2 separate regions of the Homo sapiens genome follow, and region 1 is linked to region 2. Evidence: fine-mapped expression QTL. A gene starts in region 2. The other region holds a variant in brackets. All regions are shown on one strand. Distances are between the middles of the regions.

Region 1 (11,726 bases), 83 kb before region 2:
GCGTGACACACTCTTCAGGGTAGACTTATACTAGGCCTTAAAACAAGCCTCAATAAATGGAAAAGGATTGAAATTACATAAAGTCTGTTCCCCAACTGCAATGGAATTAAATTAGAAAATGACAACCAAGGAAATTAACAAATACGTAGAATTTTTTTTTTTTTTTCGAGGCGGGTCTTGCTCTGTCCTCCAGGCTGGAGTGCAGTGGTGCTATCTCGGCTCACTGCAGCCTCCGCCTCCTGGGTTCACGTGATTCTCCTGCCTCAGCCTCTCAAGTAGCTGGGACTGCAGGAGTGTATCACCATGCCCGGCTAATTTTTGTATTTTTAATAGAGACAGGGTTTCACCATGTTGGCCAGGCTGGTCTCGAACTCCTGACCTCCAGTGATCTGCCTGCCTTGGCCTCCTAAAGTGCTGGGATTACAGGCATGAGGCACCACGCCTGGCTAGAAATATGTAGAAATTTAAAAACACTCCTAAATAATCAATGAGTGAAAGATGAAATCACAGGGAAATTAGAAAATATGTTGAGATGAATGGAAACTAACACACAACATAACATAACTTACTGGATGCAGCTAAAGCAGTGCTTAGAGAGACATTTGTAACTATGTCAATATTAGAAAAGAAGAAAGATTTCTAATTAATAACCTAAACTTCCACCTTAAGAAACTAGAAAAAGAAGAGCAAACTCAACCAAAAGAAAGCCAAAGGAAGGAAATAATAAAGGTAAGAGTAAAAATAAATGGAATAGAAAATAGAAAAAATAGAGAAAGTCAGTAAAACCAAAAGTTTTTTCTTGGAAAAGATCAACAAATTGGCAACTGTTTAGCTAGACTGACCAAGAAAAAAAAAAGAGAAGACTCAGATTAATACCTCAGGCATGAAAAGGGAGCTATCAATACTTATAAAAAGTAAAGGGGGGCTGGGTGCAGTGGCTCTCGCCTGTAATTCCAGCACTGTGGGAGGCCGAGGCGGGTGGATCATTTGAGGTCAAGAGTTCAAGACCAGCCTGGCCAACATGTGAAACCCTGTCTCTACTAAAAATAAAAAAATTAGCCAGGCGTGGTGGCGGGCGCCTGTAATCCCACCTACTCAGGAGGCTGAGGCAGGAGAATCACTTGAACTTGGGAGGCAGAGGTTGCAGTGAGCTGGGATCGTGTAACTGCGCTCCGCCTAGAAGACAGAACAAGAGTCCATCTCCACACACACACACACACACACACACAAAAGTAAAGGGATAATAAGGGAACACTGTGAACAACTGCATGCCAGCAAGTTAGATAAATAGAAGAAATGAAAAAATTCCTAGAAAGACATAAATTACCAAAACTGACATAAGAAGGAGAACTCATAAATAATCTGAACAGACTTACAACATGGAAAAAGATTGAATTAGTCATTTAAAAACTTTCAACAAAGAAAATTCCAGACCCAGATGGCTTCACTGGTGATTTCTATCAAATATTTAAAGAAAAATTAATACAAATCCCTCACAAACTCTTTCAAAAAAAGAAGAGGAAGCAACCGTGAGGCCAGTATTACCCTGATACCAAAGCTAGAAAAAGATATCACAAGAAAACTACAGACTAATATCCCTTGTGACTATAGAAACAAAAGTCCTCCACAAGCTACCAGCAAACCGGTTGGGTGTGACAACTCACACCTGTAATCCCAGAACTTTGGGAGGCCGAGGCAGGCAGATCACATGTGGCCAGGAGTTGGAGACCAGCCTGGCCAACATAGCAAAACCCTATCTCTACTATTAATAAAAATACAAAAATTAGCTGGGTGTGGTGGCACACACCTGTAATCCCAGCTACTCTGGTGGCTAAGGCACAAGAATTGCCTGAACCCAGGAGGCAGAGATTGCAGTGAGCTGAGATCACGCCACTGCACTCCAGCATGGAAGAGAGAGCGAGACTCTGTCTCAAAACAACAACAACAAAAAGATACAAGCAAAACAAATCAAGAAACGTATACAAAGGATTATACACCATGACCAAGTGGGATTTATCCCAGGAATACAAGGTTGGTTTAATATTTGAAAATCAATCGATGAAACACACAAAATTGAGAGAATAAAGAATAAAAATTACATGATCATCTCAATAGATGCTGAAAAAGCAAGACAAAATTCAACACTCTTTTATGATTATAAAATTCAATAAACTAGGAATAGAAGGAAACTTCCTCAACCTGATAAACATACCTATGAAAAATCTGTAGCTAGGCCAGGCAGGGTGGCTCATGCCTATAATCCTGGCACTTTGGGAGGTTGAAGTGGGTGGCTTGCTTGAGCCCAGGAGTTTAAGACCAGCCTGGGCAACATGGTGAAAGCCCGTCTCTACAAAAAATACAAAAACTAGCCAGGCGTGGTGGTTCATACCTGTAGTCCCAGCTACTTGGGAGGCTGAAGTAGGAGGATTGCTTGAGCACAGGAGATCAAGGCTGCAGTGAGCCATGATTGAGCTACTGCACTCCAGCCAGGGTGACAGAGGGAGACGCTGTCTAAAAAAAAAAAAAAACTACAGCTAATATCGTATTTCATGCTATTAAATTAATAGACTGAGAGCTTTCCCTCTAAGATCAGGAAACAGACAAGATGTCCACTCTTACCACTTCTAGTCAACATTCTACTGGGAGTTTTAGCCCAGGCAATTAGGCAAGAAAAAGAAATAAAAGCCATCCACAAATAGAGATGTAAAACTGTCTCTATTTGCAGATGACATGAGATTGTATGTAGAAAATTCTAAGGAATCCATGAAATAGGAAACTCCAAGGGGCCTCAAATAGTGAAAACAAAATTTAAAACAAAGTAGCAGTACTTACACTTCCCAATATCAAAACTTACTACAAAGCTGCAGTAATCTCAACAGTGTGGTACTGGCATAAGGCTAGATATATAGACCTATGGAAAAGAATTAAGAATCCAGAAATAAACCCAAACATTTATGGTCAACAGATACATATATTTTTTACATCCATGATACACACTGGATGTCAATTTGACACTTGACAACGTTACCAAGACCATTCAATGGGGCAAATGATAATCTTTTCTAAAAAAATGGTGCTGGAGGCTGGGTGCAGTGGCTCACGCCTGTAATCCCAGCATGCTGGGAGGCCAAGGTGGACGGATCACAAGGTCAGGAGATCGAGACCATCCTGGCTAACATGGTGAAACCCCGTCTCTACTAAAAATATAAAAAATTAGCTGGGTGTGGTGGCGGGCGGCTGTAGTCCCAGCTACTCGGGAGGCTGAGGCAGGAGAATGGTGTGAACCTGGGAGACGGAGGTTAGTGAGCTGAGATTGCACCACTGCACTCCAGCCTGGGCGATAGAGCAAGACTCCATCTCAAAAAAAAAAAAAAAAAAAAGGTGCTGGGACAACTGGATAACCACATGCACAGGAATGAAATTGGACCACTATCTCACTCTGTCTACAAAAATTAACTCAAAATAGATCATAGACTTTAAAATAAAATCTAAAACTCTTAGAAAAAAAAATAAGGTAAATCTTCATGGCCTTGAATGTGACAATGGATTCTTAGATTTGGCACCAAAAGCATGAACAATGGAAGAAAAAACAGAAAAATCTAAAACTTCTGTATGTCACGAGACATCATCAAGAATGTGAGAAGAGGCCAGGCCGGTGGCTCACGCCTGTAATCCCAGCACTTTGGGAGGCTGAGGTAGGTGGATCCCTTGAGCCCGGGAGTTCGAGACCAGCCTGGCCAACATGGTGAAACCCCATCTCTACTAAAAATACAAAAATTAGCCGGGTGTGGTGGCAGGTCCTGTAATCTCAGCGCTTTCAGACGCCGAGTTCAAGACCACTCTGGGCAATATAGCAGGACCCCCTTTCTACCAAAAAAATGTTTTTCTCTTTTTTTTTTTCTTTTTTGAGATGGAGTCTCACCCTGTTGCCTAGGCTGGAGTGCAGTGGCACGATCTCAGTTCCTTGCAACCTTCACCTCCTGGGCTAGAGTGATTCTCCTGCCCCAGCCTCCCAAGTAGCTGGGATTACAGGCGCCCACCACCACGCCTTGCTAATTTTTATATTTTTAGTAGAGACGGGGTTTCACCATGTTGGCCAGGCTGGTCTCAAACTCCTGACCTCAAGTGGTCTGCCCACCTCAGCCTCCCAAAGTGCTAGGATTATAGGCATGAGCCACCATGCGCAGGCAAAAAAAAATTTTTAATTAGCGAGGTATGGTGGTGTATGCCTGTAGTCCCAGCTACTTGGGAGGCTGAGGTGTGAGGATCTTCTAGCTGCGACACCAAAAGCACAAGCTATAAAAGAAAAAAAATTGATAGATTGGACTTCATAAAAATTAAAAACTGTGTGTGTCAAAGGATACTATTAGGAAAGTGAAAAGACAACCAATCATTGGATGGAAGAAAAAAAGTGTGTGTGTGTGTGTGTGTGTTTTTTCCTGAGACAGGGACTCACTCTGTGGCTCCAGTTGGAATGCAGCAGTATGATCATGGCTCACCATAACCTCGACCTCCTGGGCTCAAGTGATCCTCCTGAGCTGGGATTATAGGCATGCACCACCACACCCGGTGGGAGAAAACATTTGCAAATCATATATTTGACAAGGGACTCATATCTAGAATATATAAAGAACAATAAAATTCAACAATAAAAAGACAACCCAATTTGGATAAAAATAAGCAAAGGATCTGAAGACATTTATCCAAAGAAGATATGCCAATAGCTATTATATACTTGAAAATATTTTCTTTTTTTTTTTTTTGAGATGGAGTCTCGCTCTGTTACCCAGGCTGGAGTGCAGTGGTTCACCGCAAGCTCCGCCTCCCGGGTTCACGCCATTCTCCTGCCTCAGCCTCCCGAGTAGCTGGGACTACAGGCGCCCGCCACCATGCTCGGCTAATTTTTTTGTATTTTTGGTAGAGATGGGGTTTCACTGTTAGCCAGGATGGTCTCGATCTCCTGACCTCGTGATCCGCCTGCCTCAGCCTCCCAAAGTGCTGGGATTACAGGCATAAGCCACCGCTCCCGGCCAAGATTTTCAACATCAGTAGTCATCATGGGAATACAAATCAAAACCATAAGCTACCTCTTCATACACATTAGGGTGGCTGCAGTAAAAAAACAGACAATAACAAGTGTTGAATGTGGAGAAATTAGAATGCTTATTACATGGCTGGTGGGGCAGCCACTTTGGAAAACAGTTTGGCAGCTCCTCAAAATGTTAAACCTAGAGTTATTGTAAAACCCAGCAATTCTATTCCTTAGGATATACTCAAGAGAGCTGAAACATATGTCAACACACAAAAAAAAACTTGTACACAAATGTTCATGTACTGACAACCTAAATATCCATCAACTGATGAATGGATAAGTAAAATATGATATATCCATACAAGAGAAAATTATTCAGTCTGGGCGCGGTGACTCATGCCTGTAATCCCAGCACTTTGGAAGGCCAAAGTGGGTGGATCACTTGAGGTCAAAAGTTCAAGACCAGCCTGACCAACATGGTGAAACCCCTTCTCCACTAAAAATACAAAAGTTAGCCGGGCATGCTGGCACACACTTGTAGTCCCAGCTACAAGTCCCGACTTGCAGTCGGGAGGGTGAGATAGGAGACTCGCTTGAGCCTGGGAGGCAGAGGTTGCAGTGAGCCGAGATCATGCCATTGCACTCCAGCCTAGGCATCAGAGAGAGACTCTGTCTCAAAAAAAAAAAAAAAGAAAAAAAGAAAAAAAAAAGAATGAAATACTGAGGTAGGAGGTGGGACTCGACTCCAGAGTCAGTTCTTGGACACTGGACCAAATTGAGAACTAGCTAAAACAAAGATGGAGTGGAAGCAGGTCTCCATAAGACACACCTACCAGTGCAGCATTTCAGTTTACCATTGCCACGGCAACAGCCAGAAATTACCACCCCTTTCCATGGCAACGACCCAATGACCCAAAAGTTACCAAAATTTTCCTACAAATTTCTGCACAATCTACCCCTTAATTTGCATACAATTAAAAGTGGGTATAACTATGAGTGCAGACCC[A/G]CCTCTGAGCTGCTACTCTGAGCACAAGGCCTGTGGGGTAGCCCCGCTCCACAAGGAACAGCACCTCTGCTGCTGTGCACTGTCGCTTCAATAAAAGCTGCTGTCTAACACCACCGGCTCACCCTTGAATTATTTCCCGGACAAAACCAAGAATCCTCCTCTGCTAAACCCCAATTTGGGGGCTTGTCTGCCCTGCATCAGTACTGATACATGCTACAACATAGATGAATTTTGGAAACATGTAGAAAGAAGATTGTCACAAAAGACGACATGTTGTATAACTCCATTTGTGGGAAGTGTCTGCAATGGGAAATCCATACAGATAGAAAGTAAATTACTAATTCCCTAGGGCTGTGGGTCGGGGTGAGGAGGTAGGTGGCAGAGAGGAGGGTGCAGGAATGGGGAATGACTGTCAAGTGGTCAGGGTTCGGGGAGTTGAAATAATCTAAAGTTCGATTGTGGTGATGGTCACACATATCTGTGAATATACTAAAAATCACTGAACTGTAGACTTTAAAAGGGTGCATTTTGTGGTATGTGAAATAAATCTCAATAAAGCCGTGTAACAGGCCAAGCATGGTGACTCACGTCTGTAATCCCAGCACTTTGGAAGGTGGAAGTGGGAGGATCACTTGAGCCCAGTAGTTTGAGACCAGCCTGGGCAATATACTGAGACCTGGGCTGTACAAAAAACTAAAATTGACCAGGCATGGTTGCACATACCTGTAGTCCTAGCTACTCTGGAGGCTGAAGTGGGAGGTCTGCTTGAATCCAGGAGGTCGAGGCTGCAGTGAGCCGAGATAGTACTACTGCATTCTAACCCTGGTGACAGAACAAGACCCTGTCTTGAACAAATAAATAAATAAATAAATAAATAAATAATTTAAAAAAGCCATAACAGGTCGGTCGTGGTAGCTCGTGCCTGTAATCCCAGCACTTTGGGAGGCTGAGTTGGGCAAATCACTTGAGGTCAGGAGTTTAAGACCAGCCTGGCCCACATGGTGAAACCTCGTCTCTACTAAAAATACAAAAATTAGCTGGGCGTGGTGGTACCTGCCTCTAGTCCCAGTTACTCAGGAGGCTAAGGCGGGAAAATCGCTTGAATCCAGGAGGCGGAGGTTGCAGTGAGCTGAGATTGTGCCACTGCACTCCAGCCTGGGCAACAGAGTGAGACTCTGTAAAAAAAAAAAAAAAAAAAAAGAAAAGAAAAAAAAAGCAGCCATACAAACAATAACAAACTGTACTCTAAAACTTGCTCTAGGCCAGGCTTGCTGGCTCACGCCTGTAATCCCAACACTCTGGGAGACTAAGGCAGGAGGATCACTTGAGTCTAGCAGTTCAAAATAAGCCTTGGTAACTCTGTCTCTGCAAAAATTGAAAAATTAGCCAGGGGTTGTGACTTGCACCTGTAGTCCCAGCTACTCAGGAGGCTGAGGCCAGAGGATCCCTTGTGCCCAGGAGTTTGAGGTTGCAGTGTGTTATGATGGCGCCACTGCACTCCAGTGTGGGTGACAGAGCAAGACCTTGTCTCAAAAAAATAAAATAGGATAAATAAAATACAGTAAAACTTGCTCTGCCTATCCAGTGGGGGTTTTTTTTTTTGGAGATGGAGTTTCGTTTTTGTTGCCCAGACTGGAGTGCAGTGGCGTGATCTCAGCTCACTGCAACCTCCGCCTTCCAGTTTCAAGCGATTCTCCTGCCTCAGCCTCCCGAGTAGCCGGTACTACAGGCATGCGCCACCACACCCAGCTAATTTTTTGTATTTGTAGTAGAGACGGGGTTTCACCATGTTGGCCAGGATGGTCTCGATCTCTTGACCTCGTGATCCGCCCGCCTTGGCCTCCCAAAGTGCTGGGATTACAGGCATGAGCCACTGTGCCTGGCTTCCAGTGGGGTTTGATATATTTCATAGGAAACTTTTTTTTTTTTCTTTTTTTTAGACAGAGTCTTGCTCTGTCACCCAGGCTGGAGTGCAGTGGTGCAATCTCGGCTCACTGCAACCTCCGCCTCCCGGGTTCAAGCAATTCTCTTGCCTCAGCCTCCTGAGTAGCTGGGATTACAGGCGCCCGCCACCACGCCCAGCTAATTTTTGTATTTTTAGTAGAGACGGGGTTTCACCATGTTGGTCAGGCTGGTCTCGAACCCCTGACCTCGTGATCCACCTGCCTCGGCCTCCCAAAGTGCTGGGATTACAGGCGTGAGCCACTGCGCCCGGCAGGAAACATTTCTTTGGGAAAACTCCAAATCTATGAGGGCTTAGGTGAAAGGAATAGAGATTTTTCCCTGCCCTTCTAGTATGGACATGGAGAGGCAGCATGATTGTCACCCTGAACTAAAACACAGGCTGAGATTTTGAGTGAAGATTTCTGGAACGATGACAAAGGGGAGGGGATGGAGGGATCCCCCTGCCAGGTGTGCCATTATGAGTGGTATCAGCCAGTCAGCACCAGTGAGCTTCGAGGAAGCCTGTTCTCAGTTAAGGGGCACAGATGCCACTAGCCCCAGGCCCCCATCCTGTGGATCGTGCTCTGTCACTCTGAGCTCAGGGACCACTTAAGCCACTCAATGATCAAACAGTCAGAAAATGCCCAGGGGGGCCAAGAGAGGATGTGCAGACAGTGAAGGAGAGAAGCCGAGGGCTTCCCCGACCACTACACGTCAAGTAGCGCCTGCCTCCTCTCCATCAGGAACCTGAGCTCTGAAGGCAGTCAGATCGCGCTCAAATCTTGGCCAGAGTCAACCTTCCCCACTGATAGCACAGAGGTAATAATATCTATTGTCTGGGTTGTTAGAAGATTAACGAACTCTCCATAAATGGTAGCAATTAGTATTATAAAACATTAATAAAGCATGGCTATTGGGAGGGATAAGTTCCGGTTTTTCTTTTTTTTTTTTCTTTTGAGACGGAGTCTCACTCTGTCACCCAGGCTGGAGTGCAGTGGCGCGATCTCGGCTCACTGCAAGCTCCGCCTCCCGGGTTCATGCCATTCTCCTGCCTCAGCCTCCCGAGTAGCTGGAACTACAGGCGCCCGCCACCACGCCCGGCTAATTTTTTTGTATTTTCAGTAGAGACAGGGTTTCACTGTGTTAGCCAGGATGGTCTCGATCTCCTGACCTCGTGATCTGCCCGCTTCTGCCTCCCAAAGTGCTGGGATTACAGGCATGAGCCACCGCGCCAGGCCTATTTTTCATTTTTGAGACAGGGCTGGGGACTGGCTTTCTGTAATCTCAAGGGTTGCTGGGCTTTGGTGGGTGGGTGACTCACGGAGGGGCATTCCCTGCAGACAGTAGGCAGTATTGTATTTGAGACAGGGTGTCCCTCGGTCACCCACACTGGAGTGCAGTGATGCCATCATAGCTCACTGAAACTTCAAACTCCTGGCCTCAAGCAATCCTCCCACCTCAGCCTCCCCAGTAGCTGGAACCGCAGGTGCATGCCACTCTGATTAACTTTTTTTTTTTTTTTTTTTTTGAGACAGAGTCTCATTCTTGTCGCCCAGGCTGGAGTGCAATGCCATGATCTTGGCTCACTGCAACCTCTGCCTCCCGGGTTCAAGTGATTCTCCTGCCTCAGCCTCCCCAGTAGCTGGGATTACAGGTGCCTGCCACCACACCCAGCTAATTTTTGTATTTTTAGTAGAGACCGGGTTTCACCATGTTGGCCAGGCTGGTCTCGAACTCCTGACCTTGTAATCTGCCCGCCTCAGCCTCCCTAAGTGCTGGGATTACAGGCGTGAGCCACCACGTCCAGCCCACTCTGAGACAACTTCTGAAACAACATGTCAGTTCATGACACTTTCTTACTTTAAACCCTCCTATTGTTTTCCATGGCACCTTCCTTACCACAGCCCATAAGGCCTCACATGAGGGGGCTTCTGCCCACCACGCTGCACTTTCCCCTCCTCACTCTTCTTGGATTTCCTTCATTTTCCAGAACCCACTGGTTACGTCCCACCCAGGGCCTTGTGCCTGGGACCCTCAGCCACCAGCGCCCCCAAAGCCCACTCCTCACCCACCCACAAGGTCTCCTCTCAAATGTGACTGACCCTGCTACTCCCCGCCACATCTGCCACTGTGCCTCTTTTTTGTGTTCTCCCAGCACCTGCCTTGGTTGAGCTCGGGTGTCTGTGTTCTGTCTGCTGGCTGTCCTGGCAGCTCTCCCGCCAGACAGAGCCCCAGCCCCAAGGAGTGGACGAGCAGCGCCTCACAGGGAGTGCATCCTGGATAGGCATCTGGCGGGTGAATGAGTGCCTGCCTCCTTCCAGGCGTGCAGCGGATGGTTCCGTTTGTTACTTGATCTTGAACTGTCATGAGTGCAGTGATTCTGGGAGAGGGGGTTTTTTGGCTCCTCTCCCAGTTTTTGGGGAATAGGATGGCAGAGAGAAGGCAAGATCTGCCGACATTCTAAAAAGGACATAGGGATGGGCTACGGGCAGGCTGAGGACTGGCTTTCTGTGAGTCTCAAGGGTTGCTGGGCTTTGGTGGGTGGGTGACTCATGGAGGGGCATTCCCTGCAGACAGTAGGCAGGTTGCTGCCCTCTGTCTCCAAAGAGGTCTTTAAGAGAAGGAAGCGCAACTGGGGCCCCTGTGATGACTGGAAGATTGTGGCTCCAGGACACAGTCACTACCTTCAGGGATGGAAGTGAAGTGATGCTGAGGGGGGAGAAGAGATTCAGTAACATGCCAGCCCTCAGCCACGCAGAACAGCTGGAAGGCTGCCTCGGGGACTCTTAGAACATGCTGGAACAGTGGCACAGCCTTCAGAATTCCGGGAAAGCCTGTAAAACCCAATCAGGACCCATGGCATACACCATGGTGCTCTGTGTAGCAGGTGCTGCTTTGCTGTGGCTGTTTGTGCATATGTGTGTACATACCTAAAGCATAGAGGTGTCAAATGCATTTTGTATTGTTACCACTTTACGGGTTTGAAAGCTGCTGCATCTAGAAAAGATGTTTGTGGCCGGGCTCGGTGGTTCACGCCTGTAATCCCAGCACTTTGGAAGGCCGAGGTGGGCAGATCACTTGAGCTCAGGAGTTCGAGACCAGCCTGGGCAACATGGCGAAACCTCATCTCTACAAAAAATACAAAAAAATGTAGCCAGGTGTGGTGGCAGGCACCTGTAGTCCCAGCTACTTGGGAGGCTGAGATGGGACAATTACCTGAGCCCAGGGAAGTTGAGGCTATAGTGAGCTGTAATCATGCACTCCAGCCTGGGTGACAGAGGGAGACCCCGTCTAAAAAAAAGAAAAGAAAGAAAAGATGGGTGGACCCCCACCAAGGGTCATCTCACTCAAAGGGCAGGAGGCTGAGACCCAATTCAGGGGACTACTGGAGGTCATCAGCCCTGCTTGGTTTCAGGGTAACCGTGGGCTTTGGTGTCAGGCAGAGCTGGATTCAAACTTACTGGTTTGTCTACAACCTACCAGTTGTATGACTCTGGGTAAGATGCCCAACATCTCTGAGTTTTGTCACTTGCCTGAGTAGGTAGTGCCGGTAGCTACCTCACCGATGGTTGTGAGGGTTAGGCAGGACACCTCCTGGAATGCCAAGCTGAGAACTGGTTTTTTTTGTTTTGTTTTTGTTTTTTGAGACAGGTTCTCGCTCTGTCATCCAGGCTGGAGCGCAGTGGTGCGATCTTGGCTCACTGCAACCTCCACCTCCTGGGTTCAAGCGATTCTCATGCCTCA
Region 2 (11,726 bases):
GTGTGAGGGGCAGTGCAAGGGCAGCATAGCACCTGGGGGGCCGCGCGGTTGGAGGGGCGGGAGGCTGGAGGTAGGCAAAGAGAAATATGAGGGGCAGGGCAGAAGAGCAGGGAACCTGGGGTGTTTGAGGCAGGGGAGGAAGAGCCCAATGTCAGGGCAAGGTGCCTGCTGTGGTGTGGGGAGGGGGATGGCGCCCTCAACACATACACACACACGCACACACACACACACGCTCGCGCGCACACACACACACACACACATCGCTAAGTGCTCTGCAGCCCTTCCTGGACTCTGACAATTATGGCACCTGACAGACCATAATAGTTAACCCAGGCCCATCCCTTCTGAGGCCACTTCCCCGCCCCCAGCTTGGCTTCTCAACCTTCCAGACAGTCCTCGAAAGCAGGGCCAGAGCTGGGGAAAGGAAGGGGAGGCAGACAATGGGAGGGGTGGTCAGAGGGAGGAAGGGGGAGGCAGAAGAAGAGACGAGGACAGGGTTAGAGAGAGAGACAGCAGGAAGGGCAGCGCAGGAGAAATTGACGAACAGGGAGCGGGAGGGGAGGAATGGGAAGACGGAAAGGCACAGAGGAGAGATGGGGGAGGGGCGAAGACTGAGGGCATCCAGGGGAGTGCTCTGGAGCCCAGGTATCGGGTAGAGGAACCCTGACCCCGAGGTTCTAGGCTGCTTGGCAGGAGTTGGGGACCATGCCCCTGCCCCTCTGCCCACCTCCCCCAGAAACTCCCCTGGCTGCCAGGAACTCAGTCCTCCCTCCTTCACTGCCTCCCTCCCTTCCTCCCTCGGGGCAGGCACTGCTTCCCAGCCAAATCCGAAGCCTTCATCTCCGCTACTCAGAGCTTGGAATGAAAGAAGGGGAAGCGAGTACAGCCCTCAAACCCGCTGACGGCCAGATTTTTATTATCTTTGCTCGAATGGGCCCTAGGAAGCCAGTGAGGGATTCTTCAAAGAGCATCTGAGTGCCTCATTGAAGCCTGCACCTGCACCAGCCCACCCACAGCAGGCAGCCAGGACTTGGGGGGCACAACCTGTCCCCCACCCCCCACAAATCCTAGAGTCCAGAGCCTCAGCTACCAGGAGACTCACCCTCAGCAGCTTGTGCCCAAGCAGGGGTCCCTAGGTCAGGAAACCAGGCTTAAAGCTAGACCTAAGTCTGCTGGGCCTCTGAGGCAGTCTGTGTCCCTCTCTGGGCCTCAAGGACATAAATGAAGAAAGAAAACAGATTTCCTTGCCAGGGCTTGGAGGAGATAAATGCTTGAGATTCCTCGAAAGAGCAGCTTTTATGGCAAGCCCTGGATCCTTCCCCTGAACTCCCTGCCTGCCCAGCACCCACAGGCCCCTTTGCAAGAGCACCCCCCACCACAGCTGCCTCTTCATGTGCCCCAGGCCTGCTACCCAGGATGACAGACGCCATGAACTGTTCTTCCTTGAGCCCCAAACTCAGCTCCCTCAGTTCAAATCCTCAACACTGTCTCCCTTCTTTCCCCAAAACCTAACCTGGGGTGGGGGTGGGGGCTCAACAAACTGGGTACTTCAAAGAGCCCAGCCGCCTCCCTCCTAAGCACTTCCAGGGCTGGGGTTTTGGCAGAGAATTCCAAGGTTGGCATAGGCAGATGGCAGCCATGCCACCCCCACCCTCTAGCTCTGACCACACTGTCGATGCCCACAGCCAAAGAAGGAATCAATGGTTCTAATTAAACCCTTTTTCCAGGGTGGGTCCCTGGCGAGAGAGAGGGAAGAGGGAGAGAGACAGGGAAGGGAGGGGGGAGAGGGGGAGAGAGAGAGAAAGAGAGAGAGAGAGCGCGAGAGTGCATCAGAGAGGCCCTGCATCCCAGTGCCCAACCCAGTATCCTGCACATCTTTAAGACGCCTGGAACCCAGCAGGGATGAGGCCACGAAGACCCCAGACCCTCCGCATTAGGCAAGGAGGCAAGTAGAGGGGCAGGGGAAAGCCTGGGGTGGGGGTAGCTCTTTGAGGGGTTCATTCGAGCGACCCTTCCCCTAGTGGAGCATCCCTCTCCACTCAGCACTCCCCGAGGACCACAGTTGCCTCTTCCAGATAGAGCTCCAGGGCACAGACAGTGGGAGCCAGAAGGGGGATTTGTGCCTCCATCCCAGCCTTGAGGGTCATCACAGAGAACCAGCCATCGTGGAAAGGGCAGAAGAAGCAGGAATTGTTGTGGGGGGACTGGACAAAGACCCTCTTGTCCCCAAGGCAGGGTGGCAGGAAGCCAGGGCAAAGCCTTTGCACTTGCTGCCAGTGGTGCCTGGGTGCCAGGCAGTCTGGGTGGGGACAGCGGGGTGGAGGGGGGGTGCATCTTATTCTTGGAAACCCTCCCCTTATGCCCAGAGCCCTCACCCCATCCCTTGCTTCTACCCCAGGCCACCAGCTAAGTCTCTGTCCCCAGCAACTCTCAGCTTGCCTGGAGCACTCCTTCCTGTGTGAATGTTCCTTCCCATGTCCCTGACACCTGTATGGAGTGGCCCATCACCAACCAGAACCAGCAAAACCCCTCAAATGCACCATAGCTGCTCCCCACATACAACCACACCAGAAACCACCACCATCACAGCTGCCACCAGTGGCGACAGCCTCACAATCTCCATCAAATGCATCATCAATTTTTAAAGATCAACAAGAGGGAAAGGGATGGGAATAAGAGAAACTGAGGCAAGGAATTAGACAGCAAAGCAGTTGGCTCAAGGTCACCCAGACCAAGATACCAAGAGTCGGGAAGAAGGTATCCTGACGACCCCCCAAAAGTGCTCAAACCCCACCCAAAGGAACATTCAGGCCCACAAACCTGGAAGTCTGGTCAGCTTCCCTCACTCCCAAGCCTCACCTGTTTCTCCCTTCCCCAAAACAGACAGCAGCTCCTCCATCTCCTTTTGAAAGGCTGCTGCCAGAAACCCCCACCCCCAGCTCGGGGAGCCCACTTTCCTTAAAGTTGGGGTGCTGCAGGACCTCCTTGTCCCACAACATTTGAGGAGGGGGGCTGGGAAGATCCCCCTCCTTGCATACTTCCCCGCGCCTGCTCACCTGGCTCCCCTCGGCCCCCAGGGTCCCTCGGTCCAGCCTCCTCCCTGGGAGAGCGGGCTCTGCCCTCCGCCGTCCTCTCCCACCAGGCCAGGGCAAAGCGCCGGAGGCACTGCCAGGGCTGCATGGGGACGCGTGGGGCTGGGGGACGAGCACCAGCAGCCGCACACGCCCCGCCGGGCCCTGACAGCTGAGCTGCGGAGGCACCCGGCCTGTCCCCTCTGCTTCCACCAGCATCCTGCTGCCCCCACCGACAGGACTCGGAGCTGGCCCGGGAGCTTCTGACGTAGCAGGGGGGTGCGTGGGAGGGGAGGGGGGGCCACGGTGCGTCCCCTTCCCAGCCCCACCCTCCACCCCTCAGCCGCCTGCCTTCCCTATCTTCTCACTCACCCTAGATGCCCTCCCCAGCTGGGGGCGCCCTCCCCTGCCCCCTGGCCTCTGCAGGGGGAGGGGTTAAGATCAAATAGCCCCTCCCTAAACCCCTCCCTCTCGTGGCCCTCCCTACCCGCTGGTAGAGCGGGGAGCTGGTCCCCAGTTTCTGCAACTGCTGCTGAGGCTCAGAGGTCTCCAGGGCTAGGGCCTCGAGGTGCGGGGAGGGGGGGTGTGTGGAATACAGGCTTGTATCCTGGCAACGCGGCCAACCCCAGAACGCACTCATCCCCTTCCCTCCCTGGAGGCTGGCGCAAAGGGCCCACCACCACCATCCTAGCCCGTGCACCCCATTCTGGGAGCTGGGGGAGGGAGGCCTTTGATGCACCCCTCACTTCTCCATCCCCTTCCCCTCCCCTGCATCCTCCACTTCCCCCACCTCGGAGGGACGCCCTTCTCCCCCCACCCTCCTCACCATCCATCCCCCTTCTTCTCCTCACCCCTCCCCCTTCCACACAAGCCCCTTTACAGTTGAACCCCTCTGGCCCCCACCCCGGGGCGTAGTGAGGCCCTCCCCACCCAGTCTCCTGCCTCGCCACCCTGCCCCCTTCTCTGGTCCCAGCACTCCTCTCGCCCGGGTCCTTCTCCCAAGCCCGGCGCACAGCGGTCCCCTGCCCCCACACACCTGCGCCCCAGCATCCCTCGCCCCGCCGGCCACCGCCTCCCCGGCCCGGCCGCCGCCCCCGCCCCCGGCCGAGGGGGAAAACACACAAAGAAAACAGAAATACCTTCCACTTAAGCATGGAGGCACATTAGGGAGGAGAGAGACAGGGACATGCCTTGGGACGGAGCGTTCCCCATCGGGCGGGGGCGCGGGGGGCGGGGGCCCCGGGCCGGCCTGCCTGGCGCTCGCCCTCTCGCCGCCTCGCGGGCTCCTCGCTCGGCCCCAGCCCCGGGGCGCGGTGCCAGGCGGGCGGGCCGGGGGCGCGGGCCCCGCCGGGGTGGACCAGCTGGGAGGGCGCCGGCGGCCGGGCGTGTGGGTGAGCGCGCGCGCGGGCGTGTCACCGAGTGTGCGAGAGCGAGTGTGTGTGTGTTTGAGTGTGTGTCTGCGCGCGCGCGGGCCGGCGCGGGTGTGTCACTGCGGGCGGGCGCGCGCGCGGCGCGGGCGCGCGCGTGTGGCCGGAACTTACAAAGGGCCGCCCGGGGCGGCGGGGGCGGGGGAGGGGAGGGGGCACTGCGCCTTCTCGCGCCCTCCAGCTTCACCGCGTGATCCCGCAGCGCGCGGCCGGGGCCGGGCGCGGGGCGCGCTCACTCTCTCCTTCCCGCGCCACCTGCTTCGTCCCACCCCAAGTAGTCTTCGCGCCACGATAGAGACAAATACATTGACCGAGGACCGGCTCGGAGGAGGCACCCGGGGAAGCGGGGACACTTGGAGGGTGGAGGACTCCTGGGTCTCCAAGCCCGGGCGCGCCTAGGGATGGAAAGGCTCTCGGGGCTGGGTGGGGAGGCGGGGCGGCGAGACTGGGGGCTCCCTTCAGCCAAGGTGACCGCGGAAACCAACAGCCGCCCCATGCTGGGAGCGCCCGGATCCTCCTCTGCTTCTGCCTCGCGACCCCTCACCCCAGCGCGCCTAGACGCGGCTCGGTCGGAGGGTCTGGGCTCCCCGGCGCCCCCTGCTGGGCCGCCGCCTCGCCCCCGCTCCGGGTTGCAGCCCCTCCTGCAGGCGTGCGCGGGAACTGCAGGCAGGTCCGCGCCCCTCCGGCCAGTGAGACCCCACCGTAGGACGCTCCAGCGACGGTCCCTGCTCACGCCTCGCTTGGCGGCGTCACTGCCGCCTCTACTTCAGCCCGCAGAGCACTAGCTCGGCTCCACCCTGCCGTCCCCCGCCCCTCCGCGTCCCACCTTCGTTGGCCTACCTGTTGGCTCCGCAGACTTCTCCAGCGCTGACCCGGACCCAGACCCAGACCCAGGCCCGCGCCGACACCTCGTGATTCCAGCGGCCCCCTCCCTCCCTCGCTCCGATGCTCTGGCCAGTCCCTTCTCTCTCAAGCTTTCTTGCGGAGGAGAAGGTGGGCTGAGTCCCCTGTCCCTTTTATTTACTTCTGGAGTTTCCAAAAGCAGTTTAGGTGAGCAAGAGAGTGGACACAGTACTTCTATTCACTGTGGGCCATCAGGCAGAGTGGCAGGCAGGCAGAGAGCCCAGGAGAGGAGACCCCACCCCAAGTGGCCCAAATGACAAACCGGTTTCCCCACTTCCTGGTCTACCCAGTTGCAACCTTAATCTGGGCTCTCCCAATTTCCTATCCACCCCCAGGCCTGCCCCTGAGCCAACCACATGCCCAGCTAGGGACAAGGTCCCAGATTCCCCTTAGAGATAAATAACCAATTGCAGTAACTCAGATGCCAGGGCCAGGACCAGAGGAGAGGCCCTTCCCAGCTCCAGTGGGACAGATCAGGAGGACAGCCAAGAGCTGTGTCCTGGACACACAGTCTGGGCACACGACCCCAGCGGCAGGCACCCTGACTTCTTCCCTCCTGGGCCAACTGCCTCTCCCTCTGCCAACTGGATGGTGCCCATCTTTTGGCCTCTGAGCGCACAGTGGGCATCCATCCAGTGCCCTGCCTGGCTGCCTGCCCAGGATGGGCATGGGAGGCAGCAGGCTCTGTGTGGGGGAGGCTCAGGGGAGGCAAGGGTAGCTTCCCCTCAGCACACGGACACCACCTCCCAAGCGGCTGGGAGCCCAGAGCTCTGGCACAGGTCGCTCCTCCGTTCAGATTCCTCACCCACTGACTGCACAGGACTCCTGCCCTTCACCTGCCCCCAACTCAGATTCCCCCCAAGGGACAAGATTTCTTCCCTCCCCCACTTTGTGCCTAAGGGGAAGAAAATTAGCAGGTGCTCTACCATAATCTCTAATTTTACCCTTTCGACAGCCTGATGGAAGTGAGCATTTTCAACCCCCTATCAGAGAGATATAGCCAATTGCCCAATGTAAGAGCAGCAAAGTTGAAATTCAAACCCACATCTGCCTTATGTCAAAGCTCCCTGCCTTTCTTCTATCACCATCATCTCATAACCCTGTGGGTCGCCACAGCAGGGACAACCCCTGGGACACAAAGTCTCATAACCATATAGTCGTTAGAAGAGAACTGAGATCAGGAATGTGGCTGAGAGTTAAGATGTATAGCCATGCCATAATCAGGAAGGAGACAGGGATCTGGTCCTATTGTGGAGAGAGTGACCTGAGGCATTACCTCTAGTTGACAATTGAAAAGATGCTTGTGCCATCATGTGGAGATTTGCCTGCCCAACCCCAGTGGCTTGGGGTGGGGTGGGAAAGGTTCTGTGATGCAGCCCCCAGGGATTGGAACAGTTCCAAAGGTGTCAGCAGAACGAAGCATCCATTTTTACCCGCCCTAAGGTGAGCTCGCTCATCATGAAGGCCACCTCCATAGTGAGGAGCTTAAATCAGATTTATGTAATATTTTTAATTTGTATAGCTCACCTTTTAATGATGAATCCTTAGCATTTCTGATCATCTTCATAGCTATCAGCTCATTTGAGACCCTTCTGCCCTCTCTTCCCCAAAGATGCTTTGTCCACACCCACCCTGCCCAGCTGACTCCATGGGTCTCCTGGAGGGGTGAGAAGGGATACAGCTCCCTGAATAGAACCCAAGGTCCCAAGGCTGAAAGTGGAGCCAGAGGACAGATGGCCTGGCATCATCGCCCCTCATTGACCCCAAGAAAAATACGTGCCTTTCCCTCCTCCCACCAGGTCTCAAAAGGAGGGGTTCCTGGTGGAGAGAGAAGGCTGGGGACACCATCTCCACTGATCAGGGCAAAAGCAACACAGGTATTACTTCAGCTGAGAGATGAGAATTGCTCCTGTAAGCTGGCATGGTGCCCAGGCACAACCAATTTGCCAGCTGCCTCCACCTGAGATGCCTCAGGTGCCGCCCCGCCCCCGCTCTCATTCCTCAACAGGTAACTTCCCTCTGGTCCTCCTCTCCTGTGCCTCTGGCAGTGTATTTGGTGGGGAGGGGGCAGCTGGCATGTTTGGGGCTTGGAACAGCAGATCCTAACCACTCACCTTGCCTCCCCAAACATCCCACCCAGCCCTCACCTGTTCCTGGGAGCTTGCGAGAGAGAGGTTATGGGGGTGCACCCTAGAGGAGAGAATTCTCAGCCCTGCCTCTCCTTCCCCAAGATGCAATAGGAACAGGGGTTGCATCTGGACAAACATCTGGGCAGGCAAAGGGAGATGGGCCTTGGGGTGGGCAGAGAAGGGCATCTGGGCCTCTAGGAGAAGGCACAGGGAAAAGGTGACGTGGAAATAATGGCTGGGACACCCCAAACTGGTCACTCTGCTGCTTTGGAGCACCCCCAGCCCAGTATCCTTGAGAAAGCCCCCGGTCCATGGGGCTGTTGTCTGGCCAGGCATTTCATGAGACCCCAAGGAACCATCCACATTCCACTAAGGGTGGCCTGCAGACAGTGAGGGCCTGGGGACCTGGTCCTATTCTGGGTCAAGTAACCAGGGGCAGTGACCTAGCACCTGGGGCACAAGAGGGGTGGGGGAGGAGCCAAGGAGGAGGAGGGTGCTTCCCGCTGCCCCAGGCCTGCTTCTGGGGCTTTCTGAACACAGCCTGGTCTCCCAGAGCCCCTAAGCCTCCCTTCTCACATTCCTCACCCTCCTGCTCCTCCTCCCACTCCATAGGAGAGGAGTGAGTGGCAGTAAATTTCTAAAGACCCTCCCCGCTTCCCTGCTTGTTATTGTAATGAATGCTAATGATGCTCCCTAACTGATGCCCTCATTAGCACATCAAACCCGCTTTCTGAAGAATGGAGACAGAAAGTGGAGGCAGGTTCTCTGGGGTCGGAGCCGTAGCCAGCCTCCTCCAGAGAACCTTATCCCGTTGCTTCTGGCAGGGAGGGACCAGCGTAGGGGCTTGGAGTGAAAAGCCGAGGTGTTCCCCTCCCAGTGGGAATTTCCTGAGCACAAGGCTGTCTTCCCTGTCAGATGGCAAGGGTTCCATCTGTCCCATCAGACTGGGAGCTCCTTGAGTCAGGCACCTTGCCCCCCTCATTAAGCCAGGGCTCCCCCTGTGGTAGGGCAGTGGCTCTGAAAGTAATTGGAAAAGCCCAGTTGCCTGGAGGGCATGTTAAACCAGCGATTGCTCCCCTCCCCTCAAGGTCTCAGATTCAACAGATTTGAGGAGGGGCCTGAGAATTCGCATTTCTTTTTTCTTTTCTTTTCTCTTTTTTTTTGAGATAGAATCTCACTCTGTCACCCAGGCTGGAGTTCAGTGGCTCGATCTCGGCTCACTGCAACCTCTGCCTCCCGGGCTGAAGCGATTCTCCTGCCTCAGTCTCCCGAGTAGCTGGGATTATAGGCACCCACCACAATGCCCAGCTAATTTTTGTATTTTTAGTAGAGACCGGGTTTCACCATGTTGGCCAGGCTGGTCTCGAACTCCTGACCTCAGGTGATCCACCCGCCTCAGCATCCCAAAGTGCTGGGATTATAGGCGTGAGCCACCGTGCCCGGCCCCACCCTGACAATTCTTTTTTTTTTTTTGAGATGGAGTTTCACTTTTGTTGCCCAAACTGGAGACCGGAACTGGATCCCTGATCCCCTGCTGTGTGCCAGGTCCATGCTCGGTGCTGCTGATGCCAGTGGATCTCCTTTCTCTGTAGGAGGGGAGAATAACCGCAAGGGAGAGGGTTCCTAGCACCCACCTCACTCTGGGTGACCTCCCAGGGCCTAAGTGGGGAGAGGGGCTTGTGGCTACAGTCCATAAGCATGCCTGCAGCTCCCCACCTCCTCCCTTCCCACTTGGTCCCTTAGGCATAAGAATTGTCGGGATGGGGCCGGATGCGGTGCTCACCCCTGTAATCCCAGCACTTTGGGAAGCCCAGGCAGGCGGATCACCTGAGGTCAGAAGTTCGAGACCAGACCGGCTAATATGGTGAAACCCTGTTTCTACTAAAAATACAAAAAATTAGTTGGGCATGGTGTCAGGTGCCTGTAATCCCAACTACTTGGGAGGCTGAGGCAGGAGAATCACTTGAACCTGGGAGGCAGAGGTTGCAGTGAGCTGAGATCGCGCCATTGCACTCCAGCTTGGGCAACAAAAGTGAAACTCCATCTCAAAAAAAAAAAAAAAAAGGAATTGTCGGGGTGGGGCCGGGCGAGGTGGCTCATGCTAGGCGAGGTGGCTCACGCTGTAATCCCAGCACTTTGGGAGGCCAAGGCAGGTGGATCACCTGAGGTCAGGAGTTGAGACCAGCCTGGTCAACATGGAGAAACGCCATCTCTACTAAAAATACAAATATTAGCCGGGCGTGGTGGCACGCGCCTGTAAGCCTAGCTACTCGGGAGGCTGAGGCACGAGAATCACTTGAACTCAGGAGGCGGAGGTTACAGTGAGCCGAGATCACACCACTGCACTCCAGCCTGGGTGACAGAGCAAGACTTTTTCTCAAAAAACAAACAAACAAAAAAGAATTGCCCGGGTGGGTGGGTGAGTGAACTGCAACCTTAGTGCTCTAGTTGGGGGAGGAGGGAGACAGGAGACTGGAGCTGGAGTGAAGAGATGGAGGGTGAGGGGAGGGGGCAAACAGAATTGGGATGAAGAGAAGATGAGAGGTGGAGAAAAACAGAAGAAAAGGGAAGAAGAGGGGAAGCAGGAGGGAGGGAGGGGAGGAAAGAGAGAAGAAGAGAGGGAGGGATGTATGGAGAGATGGAAAGAGTGAAAGAAGGCCTTTGACAGGGAAAGGGAAAAGACAAGAAAGATGAGGCCAGGGCAGGGAGGAGGAGAAGGAAGGTACAGTCTGTATCTGTCCTTAACAGGACATATTATGAGCCACTGAGGCCCAGGTAGACCACAAGCCCAACTCCTGCAGGGCCACACCCAGCTTGACTTTAAGGCTCTAGATTTCACCATCTGATTCACATGTCTTGGGGAAAAAAATGGAAGACTCCTTCCACCTCCAGCTAGCTGCCTTCCCAGGCCTGCCAACCAGCCTTAGAAGACTGTGGTAGAAGGTGCAGGGCATGGAGCCGGTACTATCCTGATCCGTTTTACCCCTGCTAGCACCTAGTAACCATCTCCTTGCCTTCCAAGGTTATAGCAATCCCCTAGTTAATGATGAAAGTAGGAAGAACTCTCGTGCATTGCTGATGGGAATGTGAAATGGTTCAGCAGCTATGGAAAGCAGTTTGGCAGTTCTTTAAACATAGAATGACCCTATGATCCAACAGCCCAAATGTCCTTCAGTGGATGAATGGATACACAAATTGTGGTATATCCATACAATGGAATACTATTCATCCATAAAAAGGAATGAAGTACTAATACATGCTTCAACATGGATGAACCTCAAAAACATCATGCTGGCTGGGCACCGTGGCTCAGGCCTGTAATCCCAGTGCTATGAGAGGCCAAGGCAGGATAATTCCTTGAGGCCAGGCGTTCGAGGCCAGCCTGGGCAATGTAGCAAGCCCCTATCTTTACAAAAAAATCCCCAGTCCCCACCAAAATATCATGTTAAGTGAAAGAAGCCAGTCATTAAAAGTCATATATTGTGTGATTCCATTTATATGAAATATTCAGAATAGGTAAATCCACAGAGATTTGCCTGGAGAGACGGGAGAACAGGGAGCAACTGTTAATGGGTATGAGGTTTCCATTTGGGATGATGAAAACGTGCTGGAACTATATAGAGTTGATGGTTGCACAGTATTATGAAAGCACTAAATGCCACTGAGTTGTTCACTTTATAATGGTTAGTTTTATTAATATACTATGCAAATCTCGCCTCAGAAAACAAAGTAATAATGAAAGTAGGAGTCTGCCAGGGAATTCAATGAGTAGAACCATCTGAAAAGTTCAGCTTATCTTCTTTGGAACAAAAGAGCTTGTGCCCACATGAGTCACAGCCTTTCCCGGTGTGCTGGAACACTGGGCACTGCTCTGAGGACTCTCAGAGGATGCTCGTAGGACCTTGAGATGTTTTCTGGCCCCAGGCTGCTCCCCGAAGCCTCTTCCTCTGCCTAGCCCTCACTCCATGGGGGCCTCCCTTTCAGGTTCCTGCCTCCCAAGCAGGTGGCAGACAGTTGATCTGTGCTTCGCATCTTCAGCTAACATCGTGCCATCTGCCCCAGTGGCAGGTCCACCCCTCTCTGATCCTTTGCTCCGAACATAGCCTTCAAAGCCCTCTAGTTTTCTTTACCACAATTTTTTTTTTTTTTTTAGTAAGTGCAGTGATGCGATCTTGGCTCACTGCAACCTCTGCCTC

Alleles and levels. Positions count from the first base shown, and alleles are read on the strand shown. Sizes are in standard deviations (SD) of each study's normalised expression.
For the expression in esophagus mucosa of the gene that starts at base 4,530 in region 2, G is the low allele of the variant in region 1 and A is the other (small effect, 0.25 SD a copy in GTEx).

Evidence for each region. PIP is the estimated chance that this variant, and not a neighbour inherited with it, causes the effect. A credible set is the group of variants that fine-mapping cannot tell apart.
Region 1: its variant is the best candidate, but not a certain one, in a credible set for the expression of SRCIN1 in esophagus mucosa (GTEx, PIP 0.63).

The regions. Positions count from the first base shown.
Region 1 is chr17:38,518,091-38,529,816 of GRCh38, forward strand. No RefSeq gene overlaps it. Among named protein-coding and RNA genes, the nearest start is that of SRCIN1, 82 kb to the right of the region's middle. The variant A/G (reference allele first, on the strand shown) is at 6,039.
Region 2 is chr17:38,601,423-38,613,148 of GRCh38, forward strand. It overlaps SRCIN1 (SRC kinase signaling inhibitor 1), which reads right to left and starts at 4,530. Exons shown (of 19, transcript NM_025248.3): 1 at 4,262-4,530. The coding sequence starts at 4,283. RefSeq lists enhancers at 5,390-5,991, 5,992-6,592, 7,736-8,406.